Homo sapiens: one gene and its partners. The protein of the gene in region 3 interacts with the protein of the main gene of each other region in a pairwise test. Each region holds a gene or a part of one and is shown on either strand. Other genes may lie near its edges.

Region 1 (3,570 bases), on a different chromosome or scaffold from region 3:
TTTATTTTATTTAAAACAGTAAATTAAGCCCTAGAAATATTTACAACTCAGATTGATGAAACCACCCATGTATAATATTCAGATAACTACATGTCATATACAGTATCTGAGATACCCTGAAAAACAGTTCCAAGTTTCAGACTACTGCAATGTACGGCAGTTCACATGCTACAAGATGCCATCAGTGTGTGGTTAATTTTACAAACACAAGTAGTTAATGCTAAATGCTCAAAAATACGTTGTAGTAAATTCAGGCATAACCACAAACATTTTTTGTATCACCCAAAGGTTATTGGTTTCCTAATGGCAAAGTGCTTAAAAGACTTTTTGAACTTAAACGTGTTGCACACTTTCCTTTTGTAGGATTTCTCTGGCTGCTATGCTAGGAACAAATTAAACAGAGGCAAGGGCAAATGTAGTGAGACTAGCTAAGAGATCATTACAGTCATTCATCTAGGCAAGAGAGCATGGTGTCTCTGACCAAGGTGCTAGCTCTGTAGATGGTGATACTTGGTTGGAAAATAGAGCCAACAGAAGTTCCTGACATGGATATGGGGTAGGGAATGAGAAGAAACAAAGATGACTCCAGTATTTTAGGCCTGCATAATTGGAAAGATAAAGTTGTTATTCACTAAAATGGATAAGATGTAAGAGGAATAAATGGGGAGGGGAACAATGATGAGTTTGGTTGTGGACATATTAGTTTGTGATGCTTATTATAAATCCAAGTAAGTGTGTCAAGCAGGCTGAAATTTAAGGAGCTCTGGTGATATACATTTAAGAGTCTTAAGCTCATAGTTGATGTTTTAAGCTGTGAGATTGTATGAGGCCATCATGTTAGTGGGTGTAGATGGAGAGGAACACTGGGGCGTTGTGATGTTTAGAGGTCGGAGAATGAGAAAGAACAAGCAAGGGACAATAGAAAGGAAAAGCTGAGTCTGAAAGGAAACTAGGAGAGTCTGATGTTTGGAAGCCAAGAAAAGAAAGTATTTCATGAAGGACGAGTGATCAGCTGGTGTCAAATGCTGTTGATAGATCAAGTAAGAAGAGTACAGTGAATTGACTGATAGATTGAGCAACATGGTAGTCACTGGAGTTCTTGACAAAATTAGTTTCTGTGATATGTGAAGAGGGCAGAAGCTTAGTTAAAATAAATTTAAGGGTAAATGGGACAAGAGAAGTTGGAGGAATTTTGCTGTAGGGAGAGCAGAAAAAAATGAGTGGAGTTTGGATGAGGATGAGAGATCAAAGAGGTTTTTTGTTGTTGTTGTTGTTGTTGTTGTTGTTACGTTTTAATGTGAGAGAAATGACAACACGTTTTTCTATTTCCATTTGATGGAAATGTTTCTGTAAAATGGATGAGGCATAATATGTAAGAGCGAGGAGAGAACTGTTGCAGCAATGTCCCTGAGTAGGCAAGAGAGGATAAGATTTAGTTCATAGATGGCTTGGATAGATGCATGGACAATTTATCCATAGTGACAAGACAGAATAACAGTATACCTGGACACAAATGCCAATGAGTTGTTGATATTGGAACTTCTTTCCTCCGTACTTCTATTTTCTCTTAAAATATGGAGGCAACGTTATCAGTGGAGAGTGAGAATGGGGAAGAGTTATTAGATGTTTGAAGAGAAGCTAAAGGTATGAAATCATCCAGTAGAGGAGAGTGAATGGACTGGGGAAACATGGGCTGTTTCCAGAGCAACAATGAAATCCACTTGAAGGCAGTGGCTGTGAATTTAAAGTAAGACCTTTCAAAAAATTTTATGTTTTTCTTCAGATATATTCAACAGTGAAAGAGACAGAGCAGTTGGATTTAATCAGCATTGGAGGTTTTCCATAGTCGAGCTTTTGTCATTAGAGTATAATGAAGATAGAGAGAAGCAAGTGAGTGAGTTTATGCGAGGGAGGTGTTAAAGCTATAGATCTTGGAATTTAGTTGTGGAAGGAAGGAAAGAGAGGCATCCATCATTGAATGATGGATTGAAAATTAAGTGGTATGACATGATAAGAATATCCAAAGATGTGTTCTTCCATTTTAATCTATATTTGTTTGTCGGGTAATTTTTCAGTCATGATGGTCAAAATCATGAAACAAGGTAAATTAACATATCAAACTTCAAATTGCTGTATCACATAGTGTTAAGCTCAGATTAAAAAATAAAATAAATGCATTCACCACGTTATTAAAATATTTTACTTATTTTAGTAATGTTTATGACATATTAATGATTATAGAAAATATAACATTTTGGTGAAAGCAAAATGGTTTTGCATTGTGAGAGTTACATTGAATATATTATTTGGCTCACCCTTATAAATATATATTTTGTGTATCTCTTTAGTGTACATATTATTAGTACTTGTATATAGTATAATAATTAGCATACAAATGTTGGGAATTATACTGATAATATGTTATTGAAAGGGAGGTGCAATTAAAAAGTCTGAAAGCCACTATTCTAGGAAATAAATTTTTTGATTCCCTACACTTGTTTTTTTTTGTTGTTGTTGTTGTTGTTGTTGTTTTTTGAGACAGGGTCTCATTCCGTTGCCCAGGCTGGAGTGCAGTGGTGTTATCTCAGTTCACTACAGCCTCATCCTCCTGGACTCAACCAATTCTCCCACGTCAGCCCCCTGAGTAGCTGGGACTACAGGTGCATGCCACCAAGCCCAGCTATTTTTTTTGTATTTTTTTGTAGAGACAGGGTTTTGCCATGTTGCCCAGGCTGGTCTCAAACTCTTGACCTCAAGCAATCTACCCGCCTCAGCCTCCCAAAGTGCTGGGATTATAGGCGTGAGCCACTGTGCCTGGCCTCTTGCAATTATTTCATCCTCATTTTGGTGTTTCCTGGAGGAGATGTTGAAATTCAATTTAGTTCAACCCATGATAGGGACGTGACAAAGACTCCCTTAACCCCAATTTCCTCATCTATAAAATGGGAGAAATAATAGCACCTAGCTTGTTGAAGTTGTTGGGGTTAAATGAGGTCGTTTTTAATAAGGGCTTTGCCTAGATATCCTGCCTGGACCTGTTCAATAAATATTAGCTGTTTGGGTGATGATGGTGATTGTAATGAAGAATTGAACTACAATTTAAGCATCCATATTTCCAACATTGTACAGCATTGTAAGCATGAGAAACAAATGTAATTTTTGGTCCTTGCTTCTCAAGAAGTTTATAATCTTTCTAGAAAGACATGATTACACACCCAAAGCAATTTGGTAACAATCTAAATATGAATGAGTGCCAAAATACGTGCCACAGATAGTATCTGCACCATCTACTAGCATGTATGAGATGTGCTCAGAGAAACCTAAGCTATAGACAACCTAAGTCCAAACTAATTTCCAGAGTCAGAAATTCCGTATAATATACTGCAGGCTGCTTTATGTCTATTTAGCGCTACAGAGACCATCACTGTGATACTCTCTAATTATTGCCACCACTAAAAATCCATCTAATTGCAAAATCATAAATTTGGCTCTGAGATATAGTGTTTGATTGAGAGAGTGATATAGGTAGGCAAAGACTATCCATATTGTTAAATGGTCTTGTTAAATTTT
Region 2 (4,305 bases), on a different chromosome or scaffold from region 3:
AATCTTACAGTCACGACACCCATTACCTATTGGGGTAAAGAGAAACTTCACTTTGTTCAAATAAAGTTATATTTAGGTCCGAAGGTCCTAAAGGTAATATTCCATAAATGAACCCCGTGAAGAACAAAGCACCAAATATAACATTGTTTGTGAATCACAGAAAATATACTGTCCCCCGCACTGAGAATAAGGGAGTGGGCGGACAGCAATTAATGGGCATTGTTGTCAGTCAGATTCTAGGAACTTTTAACAGTGCATCCCTGGAATAATCCATGACCTCCGTTACATAAATGCTTCCTTTCAAAACATTTTATCTCGGAGAAATTATTTCCATCTCACGTTAATCTCAGGATAATTCCGTTTTTGCTTTTCTAACCATAAAAGGATTTAATCACCTCCTAAAGGCCGCTGAGAAAAATCACTAAACCAGCTACCTGTATGGCAGTATCCTCATTTATCCAGCTTTTATCAAACGTACCATATAAAAATATCAATCAAAGGAAACGGGGGCCAACATTCAGCGACTCGGTTTTTGGAGCTGCTCCTGCTCCTCTGAACTGGGTCTATTCTTGGGTCAGTACTAAGCTACCTTACAGTAAAGCCTTTTGAGTTTTAAGCATTTTCAGCAAAATCACTTCCTTCTTTCCAGCAACATACATGATAGGAAGACACAAACCTTAGAACACAGTACAAATGTTGTATTCACCAGTCAAGGGTTCTTGGATAACACACAATCCTGGCACCTCCATTCTCTCATTCATAAAGTCGAGAACTTTTATCATAGTGAGGGATTTGCCTAAGCTAAGCTGCAAACTACATAGCCTCCTCGCTTTTCCAGTCAATTTCAGGCATTCTTTCCATTGTTTTCTTTCCTCCTCTTCCTCCTATGTGACAATGCCTAACACACACACACGTGCACACACACACACGAACACACACACACGCACACACCAGCAGACGTTCTTCTTCCCTTTCCCTCACCTTGACCTGCAGATGCTCCCTCATCCTCTCCCTCCTGAGCAGCTGCAGGATCCTGACGTTGAGTTGCTGGTTCCCCTTCTTCAGGTGTTGCTGGTTCCACTTCATCACTGAACTGCTCGGGCTGGGGAATACGTGTGGGTGTGCAAATAGAAAATAAGTTTCGTTATTGATACAAAATTTTACATATATACACAGAATACATAGCTATTTCTGGTCCTAACTAAGCCTAAAGACATTTCTCCAACTCTATGCTCTATGCCCAATAAGGTTACTCCACCCACAGGGAGGTTACTGTGAGAAAAGTGACGCACGAGGACTTTGGGGGCTATTATACTCTGTGTTGGAATACATGTGTACAATCTGTCATTAACAAACAAAGCCGGAGAAAGAAGTCATGGGCAAAAGCTGAAGAACACGAGAGGAAAAAAAAAATCCTCCAGAATCAATGTTTCCTTCATGAGATGCCATCCTCATTTTTTATGAGCAGGAAAGACCTTTATCAGCATTTCCACACTAATGCAACGACGCTATCACAAAAATTAATTTCTACTAATAGAAAACATCGAATTAACGTTTAAGCACTCACCCGCATAGGCCCAATCATTTCAGGAGGCTGTACATAGCGCCTTGGTCTAGGCCAATAATAGGTCGATCTTCCTCGCCAACTCATATTTCACACTGAAAACAGACAACCGTGATTGGGAACGTGCGCTCCAGAGGGCTGCTATATTCGATCACTTCCATGGATAAATGTTAACTTGCCGTTTTACTTTTGAAAATACTCTCAAAATAAGTCCCAGAGTTAAGCATACGTGTGTACGCTGTCTGAGTGCCTACAAAGCCACTTCTGCTGGCCAGGCTGGCAGAGCAATCATCTTAAGGCGTGTGGCAAAAGGCAGAGGACATTTTTTTCTAAATTTCTTTTGGACACGCGGTCTCGCTGTGTTGCTCAGGCTGGAGTGCAGCGGCGTGATCACAGCTCACTGCAGCCTCGACCTCCCGCTCAAGGGATCCTCCCACCTCAGTGTCCCCAGTAACTGGGAATACGTAGGCGAGCGCCACTGCGCCCCGCAGACAGAGGTCATTTCTGATGAGGTTTAGTTTCACAAGTGCACTCCCCACGAAAACCCTAGTGAATCACAATTCTCGTGATTGCTGCTTTGGGCACACTCCCACTTCCTAGAGCCATTCACCCCCACTCACAACAAGTTTGGTTGGACCGCACTGCCTCGCCCACTCCTTCCCACTGTTTTCGGACCTTCCATGGCGGAGGTGAGACCTTGCAGTGCTTCTCACTCGGGCGCTCCGCACTCCACACCGCTGAGGGGGCGCTCGCCAGGCCGCAGCCTTCCCAGGTGCCAGGCCCCTTCTTCACCGCCCGCCTCGCCCCCGCCGGGGGCCCCATTCAGGGAATCTGCCCTGTGTCGTCGGGGATCCCGGCACCTCGGGACTTCCATCCCCCCAACAGCACTCACCCCGTCTTCACCTGAGCCCCTGACCGCCTCCCCTCCACGGCCCACCTTCCTCCCCGTCCAGGCCCCTTCACGACCACGAAGCCGCCGGTGGCCTCGCAGCCTGTGAAGGGAAGGAGGACGACCTCGTGGCCCTTCTCCCTCGGAGGCCACAGACCAGGAAGCGGGACCCGCCTGACCCACCCGAGGCCCTCTCCACCCTCACTCACACTTCAGCCCCCGGGATGACTGGCCTGCACACCTACCAGATGAATCTCAGTAGAGGAAAAAGAGTCCGGACGGCAGGAACCACACAGCACTGCCTCACAGCTCCCTGGCGTTCTTCACGTGGGCGAAGGGGCCGGGCAGAAGACGCCCAGTGAACATGCGCACTGAGGCGGGAGCCCAGGGAGCATGCGCGGCTGTGGGCTGGGGAGGGCTGCCGTTCCCAGCGCCACGCCCCAAACCCTCCATGCCCATCCTCATTGAGGATAAGGGAATCCCACCTCCCTCTGCTGTTTCCTATGCCTCTGGGACTCAAGTAGTGCTCCCCTCAAAACTCACCCCATCTTCAACTGAACCCCACCCCCAACCCAGGGCCCTCTCTTGCCCCGGACCCACCATGGGGACAAGGACCACTGTGACTGGCTGGGAAGACAGGTAAACCACCTGCGAAAACAGAAATAGCAACCTATCCCAAAAGGAAATTGTTCAATGTGAACAAGTCAGAGAAAGAGACTGAAAGAAAAATGAATAGAATCGCTAGGACCCGTAAGAAAATGCTAAAACGATATCTATCATTTGTAGCATCAGAATCGCAGAGGGTGAAGTGACAGTATTAGGGAAACAGGACAGCCAGAGTGACACCACGTGAAAATATACTCCGTCTTGAAAGCAGCAAGATACATAGTCCTACCAGTCACAACCCATGGTCCTAAGATGTTTGGAGTTGAGAAAACAGATGAAAGGTACCTCCAAGGACATGCTCCCACAGCAGCGGAAAGTGCACGGTTCCCAACACCCATTAACAATATATGCTTTCAACAGAATTATGCTTTCATGGACTTACACACTGGTAAGTCAAGGACAGTTTTCTTTAAATCAATAGAATGATAAAAGTCATCATGCTCTTAGCCCACCCGCACAAAGGCACAGATTAACTTTAGTCTTTATATAGATAAGACCCCTATATAAGAAAAACCAGACCAGGCCAAGGCTCACGCCTGTAATCCTAGTATTTTGGGAGGCTGAGCTGGCCAGATCACCTGAGCTCAGGACTTCGAGACCAGCCTAAGCAACATCAGAAAATCTCATCACTACAAAAAACAAACAAAAAACCATCGAAAAATTAGCTGGGCATGGTGGCATGTACCTATACTCACAGCTCCTCAGGAGGCTGAGGTGGGAGGCGCGCTTGAGCCCAGCAGGTCAAGGCTGCAGCGAGCTCTGATAACACCACCGCACTCCAGCCTCGGTGACAGAGTGAGACGCTGTCTCAAGTTTTAATAATCGAACCTAAAAACGTACAAATTTATCAATCGAATTCACTATATTAACACATGAATGGGAAAAAACGCTGTGGTAATCGAAATAGATGCACTGTTTGATGAAAATCAACATATATTCAAATGAATACTCTCAGCAAATTTGGAACAGAATGCAATGACTCACTCTGATAAAGTCCGTCTACAAAAAAAGGAGAGTGAATAGGATGGTGAAATGTTGAAATTTTTCGGTTTCTCATCAGGGATAAGACAAGGATGTCCACTGTCACCATTGTAACGGGTGGGTCTGCGCAATGCCATAAAATCAGAAAAGGAAATAAAACTCTTTACAATGGCAATGACGGGCCCGCCACGGTGGCCCACGCCAG
Region 3 (3,570 bases):
GGTCACAGAAACAGTGGGTAGGAGGGTGTGGGGAAGGTTCCAACTGCCCAGCCCCACTTTTCACAGACCTCCTTTTCTCTCACCCCCATCCCCAGAGAGGTCCTAGGGCTGGTGGACATGGCCGCCCTGGAGAATGGGGAGCTGGGGCCCCTTCTCTCCCCTGGCACCCTGCGGGGTTTGGAGGATGAATGCGTCACAGATGTTAAGGTACCTGGAACTTTGCATTTTGGAAGCAGGAGGTGCTGTGGAGGGAGGGGGTCACAGTGGGCTTGGGAAGCCTGTCCCCTCCACCTTTCACTCTTTCCAACTCCCTTTTCCCTTTACGAACTTCTGAGTTCTATCCATGTGCCATAGACACAAAGGCCGCTGTACAGAGACACTTGGTAAAGGTTCAGTATATCTGGACACTTCAAACCTTAGAGTACAAGAAAGTTAGTCACAGAACTACAGCTCACAGGCCCAAAGACTCACAGAAGTATAGCATCAAAGATTTTTTTTTTTTTTTTTTTTTTGAGGCAGGGTCTCGCTCTGTTGCCAGGCTGGAGCATTGACCTCCTGGACTCAAGCGATCCTCCTGCCTCAGCCTCTCCAGTAGCTGGCACCATAGGCACGTGCCATCAGGCCTGGCTGACAAAGATCTTCACATATAAGCAGGGCTGGTAATAAACATGGTTAATTACTGAACCTGCACAGACACCGCTGAGCAGAATGGCCCAGCCATGCACGCCGTCCCCGGCTACAGTGATGTTTGCTGTCTCAATTCCAGTCCTACTTCCAGCCACAGAAATCAGTCAATGCTACTTAAGAGCCTAGAACCATAGAAAAGAGATCTGGATCCTTAAACTCATCAAATTGAGGATTATACTTTTTTATTTTTTTAATTACAGATGTCTCCCTCTTTTGCCCAGGCTGGAGTGCAGTGGCATGATTACAGCTCACTACAGCCTCGAACTCCTGGGTTCAAGGGATCTTCCCACCTCAGCCTCCTGAGTAGCTGGGATTACAGGCACACACCACCATGCCTGGATAATTTAAAAAAAAAAAATTTGCAGAGACAGGGTCTTGCCATTTTGCCCAGGCTAGTCTCAAAATCCTGGCCTCAAGTGATCCTCCAGCCTCAGCCTTCCAAAGCTCTAGGAGTATAAGCATGAGTCACCCCAGCCGAGACAACACATTTGATCAGAGAATCAGAGATGTGAGAACCTTTGCAGCCCAGCCTTTGGAGTTCTTGAAACACAGAATCTGAGAATCTTAAACTAACTGTTTGGCAGAACCTGAGAGCAGAGTCTTGGGACCAAAAGACAATAAAACATAGACCCTTGGCCGGGCGCGGTGGCTCACACCTGTAATCCCAGCACTTTGGGAGGCTGAGGTGGGAGGATTTCTTGAGGCCAGGAGTTCAAGACCAGCCTGGACAACATAGCAAGACTGTCTCTGTTTTAAAACTTTTGTGGCCGGGCACAGTGGCTCACGCCTGTAATCCCAGCACTTTGGGAGGCCGAGGCGGGTGGATCACGAGGTCAGGAGATTGAGACCATCCTGGCTAACACAGTGAAACCCCGTCTCTAGTAAAAATACAAAAAATTAGCTGGGCATGGTGGCGGGTGCCTATAGTCCCAGCTACTCTGGAGGCTGAGGCAGGAGAATGGCGTGAACCCGGGAGACGGAGCTTGCAGTGAGCCGAGATCGCACCACTGCACTCCAGCCTGGGCGACAGAGCGAGACTCCATCTCAAAAACAAAACAAAACAAAACAAAAATGTTTTGTAAAACATTTTAAAAGTTAGCTGGGTGTGGTGGCACGTGCCTGTAGTCTCAGCTACTCAAGAATCTGAGGCGGGAGGATTGAGTCCAGGAGTGTGAGGCTGCAGTGAGCCATGATGGTACCACTGCACACCAGCCTGGGGGACAGAGCAAGACGTGGCCTCTAAAGAAAAACAATATTTAATATAAATAATACTTCATACATATCATAATATGTAATAATAGGATTTATATTTAATATAAATATTAAGTATACATTATTTGTGTATACATATTAACATATAAATGTGTATATTATAAATAATATACAATAATATATTATATTATAGCTTTATTTATAATGTACACATATATATATTTTGAGACGGAGTTTCACTCTTGTTGCCTAGGCTGGAGTGCAGTGGCACAAACTCGGCTCACCGCAACCTCCTCCTCCCGGGTTCAAGTGATTGTCCTGCCTCAGCCTCCCAAGTAGCTGGGATTACAGGCATGCGCCACCATGCCCGGCTAATTTTGTATTTTTAGTAGAAAAGGGGTTTCTACATGTTGTTCAGGCTGGTCTTGAACTCCCAACCTCAGGTGATCTGCCCATCTTGGCCTCCCAAAGTGCTGGGATTACAGGCATAAGCCACCGCACCTGGTCACATGTATCTATATTATTTATAATATATTATTTATAATATGTATTATTGATTTATATTTAATATTTATATGTTAATATAGATTACATATTTCATGTGCTATAGTATATAATACATACTAATTATTAATATATAAATAACGTATTATGAATTATTAATATACACATTATATAGCTTATACTAATATTTAATATATAAATATATTACATATATAACATATATTTAATACATAAATATATGTATATATTTAATACATAAATATATGTATATATTTAATACATAAATATATGTATATATTTAATACATAAATATATGTATATATTTAATACATAAATATATGTATATATTTAATACATAAATATATGTATATATTTAATTATACACACACGTGCACACACACACAATTAAGCCCTTGCTTATTAGATGGAGGAAGCTTAAAACCATGGACTAATTTTATTTTATCTATTTATTTATTATTTTTTAATTTATTTTTTTGAGATGGAGTCTCACTCTGTTGCCCAGGCTGGAGTGCAGTGGCACAATCTCGGCTCACTGCAAGCTCCGTCTCCCGGGTTCACGCCATTCTCCTGCCTCAGCCTCCTGAGTAGCTGGGACTACAGGCGCCCACCACCACGCCCGGCTAATTTTTTGTATTTTTAGTGGAGACGGGGTTTCACCGTGTTAGCCAGGATGGTCTCCATCTCCTGACCTCGTGATCCACCCGCCTCGACCTCCCAAAGTGCTGGGATTACAGGCGTGAGCCACCGCGCCCAGCCTATTTTATTTTTATTTTTGAGTTGGAGTCTCACCCTGTTGCCCAGGCGGGAGTGCAATGGCATGATCTCCACTCACTGCAACCTCTGTCTCCCAGGTTGAAGCAATTCTCCTGCCTCTGCCTCCTGAGTAGCTGGGATTACAGACACGCACCACCACGCCCAGCTAATTTTTGTATTTTTAGTAGAGACGGGGTTTCTCCATGTTGGCCAGGCTGGTCTTGAACTGTTGACCTTAGGTGATCCGCCAACCTCAGCCTCCCAAAGAGATTACATGTGTGAGCCATCGCGCTTGGCCAAACCAGACTTTTAATATGAAGTTCCAAACCACAGAGTTAGGAGTGGGAAGGGCTGCAGAAGTTTTCTGGCTCAGCCTCCCTCCCCAGCATCACC
Region 4 (3,023 bases), on a different chromosome or scaffold from region 3:
CAGGGGCGGTTCTGGGCGTGGTCCCTGGGCTGCGGTGGACGTGGTCTCGGGCTGTGACGAGCATGGTCCCTGGGCAGCAGTGGACGTGGTCTCACACCCAGAGTCTGAAATTTCTGCCTCTTCCTGGCCCTAAAAATATCCTGCCTGTTCCCACGCGGCTCCTGCCTTCTGGAGCAGTCTGCCAGGCCGGCGGTGGGTGTTGGGCAGGGGTCTCAGGCTGCCAGCAGCCAAGTGCAGCCCGTTCTGCAGTGATGACAGGGATCTGTGGGCAGAGGGGACCGAGCCTCGGAGGATGCTGTAGGTGGGAGAGCTAACATTGACTCAGCATTTACTTCAGGCTATGCACTGTGCTGAGTCCCTTACCTCTGGGCTTCCGCAACGTTTCCCTGAGGTCAGTGTGGTTGGCATTCGTGTTTCACAGATAAGGAAACTGGAACAAAGCTTTTCAAGGCCACGCAGCCAACACCTCGAGAGAGCGGGAGAGCTTGTTCACTTGAACTGGATCCCCAAACACCAACAGCCACCCTGGCCACTGGCTCTGACTGAGCTCACCCCACCCCCGACAAGCCAGGTGCCTGGGGAACCTGCCTTCCATTCCTCCCCACTAGCTCCTATGAGGTCTCTGCCTGCCAGGCCTCCTCCTCCCCAGAGGAAGGGACGTTTCTACCACACAGCGACCCCACAAGTCAGCTGAGATTTTGGGGGCACCGAATACTCACATGGAGCCCTGAGTGGAAGGGGTGTAGGAGTCACACTCACACGCATGCACAGGGTCACCCTGAGCTGGAGACCATACCCAAGGCTCTGTGAGGAAATGTGAGTGCGCCCAGGCCCCTCCAGCCTGGTCCAATTTGCTGAGCCTCTAGCTCGACAGAGGTCAGACCAGGTCTACAGCCCAGCGATCCTAGTTCCAGACAGCTGCTCCTTCCTTTCTAGGAGGGCAGCCCGGAATATAATCCAGTGTGGTGAGAATCCATTGCACACTCCCTGTGAGCCAAGCAGACAGGTTTGGGGGCCACTGAGATAGGGGACACTTCTGGAGGGGTCAGTGACTGCAAAATGGTGGCAGTGGGATGATCTGTTATGTCTACCCACGCACATGCAGCTGCACAGTTGCAGAGATGTGAATGCAGGAAGCCAGGTGTGAGTCTGAATTCACATTGGTTTTTTTATCTTTATTAAGCAGTCATTCCTAAGGCCTGCCCGAGCCTGGCATCTCTACAGAGGAGTGGTGCCATCAGGACCCCTGTGGGGCAGATCAACACTCAAGGCAGGTGCAGAATCAACAACCTGTGACAAAGCCAGCCATCCCTGCCAGGAAGCATGGGGGATGAGCTGGCACCTTGCCCTGTGGGCACTACAGCTTGGCCGGCCCTGATCCAGCTCATCAGCAAGACACCCTGCATGCCCCAAGCAGCCAGCAACACTTCCTTGGGCCTGGGGGACCTCAGGGTGCCCAGCTCCATGCTGTACTGGCTTTTCCTTCCCTCAAGCCTGCTGGCTGCAGCCACACTGGCTGTCAGCCCCCTGCTGCTGGTGACCATCCTGCGGAACCAACGGCTGCGACAGGAGCCCCACTACCTGCTCCCGGCTAACATCCTGCTCTCAGACCTGGCCTACATTCTCCTCCACATGCTCATCTCCTCCAGCAGCCTGGGTGGCTGGGAGCTGGGCCGCATGGCCTGTGGCATTCTCACTGATGCTGTCTTCGCCGCCTGCACCAGCACCATCCTGTCCTTCACCGCCATTGTGCTGCACACCTACCTGGCAGTCATCCATCCACTGCGCTACCTCTCCTTCATGTCCCATGGGGCTGCCTGGAAGGCAGTGGCCCTCATCTGGCTGGTGGCCTGCTGCTTCCCCACATTCCTTATTTGGCTCAGCAAGTGGCAGGATGCCCAGCTGGAGGAGCAAGGAGCTTCATACATCCTACCACCAAGCATGGGCACCCAGCCGGGATGTGGCCTCCTGGTCATTGTTACCTACACCTCCATTCTGTGCGTTCTGTTCCTCTGCACAGCTCTCATTGCCAACTGTTTCTGGAGGATCTATGCAGAGGCCAAGACTTCAGGCATCTGGGGGCAGGGCTATTCCCGGGCCAGGGGCACCCTGCTGATCCACTCAGTGCTGATCACATTGTACGTGAGCACAGGGGTGGTGTTCTCCCTGGACATGGTGCTGACCAGGTACCACCACATTGACTCTGGGACTCACACATGGCTCCTGGCAGCTAACAGTGAGGTACTCATGATGCTTCCCCGTGCCATGCTCACATACCTGTACCTGCTCCGCTACCGGCAGCTGTTGGGCATGGTCCGGGGCCACCTCCCATCCAGGAGGCACCAGGCCATCTTTACCATTTCCTAGAGTTCTTGAGTCCACAGTCTGGCAAGCTGAGGTTAAAAATCATATGTTGAATGCAGCAGTGTCCACTTATGACTAACTTCTTAGAACAGCACAATATAATAGTGGAATTGGGCCTTTCAGAAGACCTCAACTGATGATTTTCACCATTTTGACAGTTTTTAAGTAGAGAAAGCTCTCTTATGACACTGAAATCCTACTTGGAAACGGAAGCAAGTAAAGGCAATCAAGCAGGGCTCTGGTCTAAGTCAAGCCTTGATCTGCGTCCCTCCAATGGCTTGCTGCACACCCTCCCTGGCCACTGTGGATGCATCCTTGCTGACCAACACACAGAAGCCAAAATGTTGCTGACAGTGAGAACCACAGAGGTAAGCAAGCAGAGCTGCTGAGTCCTGGGACCATGAGCTCTATCTGAGCAGCCGCTCAGGATGTGGGAGGGAGGAAAGGAAGCCAACGATCCACAGCAGTGGAGAGTGTCATGGAGATACCACTATAAAGCTGGAGTGTGCAAGGGTTACACTCTCACAATAAAGGTAAATGATAACCTAACCTTACAGAAGGGGTCAGCAAGGGAGTTTGCCTGCCTTGACTTTCGTGCTGTGTAGAAGAAGAAAATTCCTCGAGAATTCTTAAGTAGAAGCCACTCTTCAGACAGTTTT

Evidence for each region.
Region 1: the proteins of EXOC3L2 (region 3) and TNFSF18 interact in a two-hybrid assay, tested with the Homo sapiens proteins (one large-scale study listed by BioGRID and IntAct).
Region 2: the proteins of EXOC3L2 (region 3) and GAGE12G interact in a two-hybrid assay, tested with the Homo sapiens proteins (one large-scale study listed by BioGRID).
Region 4: the proteins of EXOC3L2 (region 3) and GPR148 interact in a two-hybrid assay, tested with the Homo sapiens proteins (one large-scale study listed by BioGRID and IntAct).

Annotation. Positions count from the first base shown.
Region 1 is NC_000001.11:173,044,376-173,047,945, forward strand, and holds part of TNFSF18 (tumor necrosis factor ligand superfamily member 18), read right to left. Parts: intron 1-3,570. UniProt on the Homo sapiens protein: Cytokine that binds to TNFRSF18/AITR/GITR. Regulates T-cell responses. Can function as costimulator and lower the threshold for T-cell activation and T-cell proliferation. Important for interactions between activated T-lymphocytes and endothelial cells.
Region 2 is NC_000023.11:49,568,901-49,573,205, reverse strand, and holds the start of GAGE12G (G antigen 12G), read right to left. Parts: upstream 2,807-4,305; 5' UTR 2,699-2,806; intron 1,660-2,698; 5' UTR 1,652-1,659; coding exon 1,568-1,651; intron 1,103-1,567; coding exon 982-1,102; intron 1-981.
Region 3 is NC_000019.10:45,228,400-45,231,969, reverse strand, and holds part of EXOC3L2 (exocyst complex component 3-like protein 2), read left to right. Parts: intron 1-95; coding exon 96-207; intron 208-3,570.
Region 4 is NC_000002.12:130,727,829-130,730,851, forward strand, and holds GPR148 (probable G-protein coupled receptor 148), read left to right. Parts: upstream 1-1,241; 5' UTR 1,242-1,323; coding exon 1,324-2,367; 3' UTR 2,368-2,508; downstream 2,509-3,023. UniProt on the Homo sapiens protein: Orphan receptor.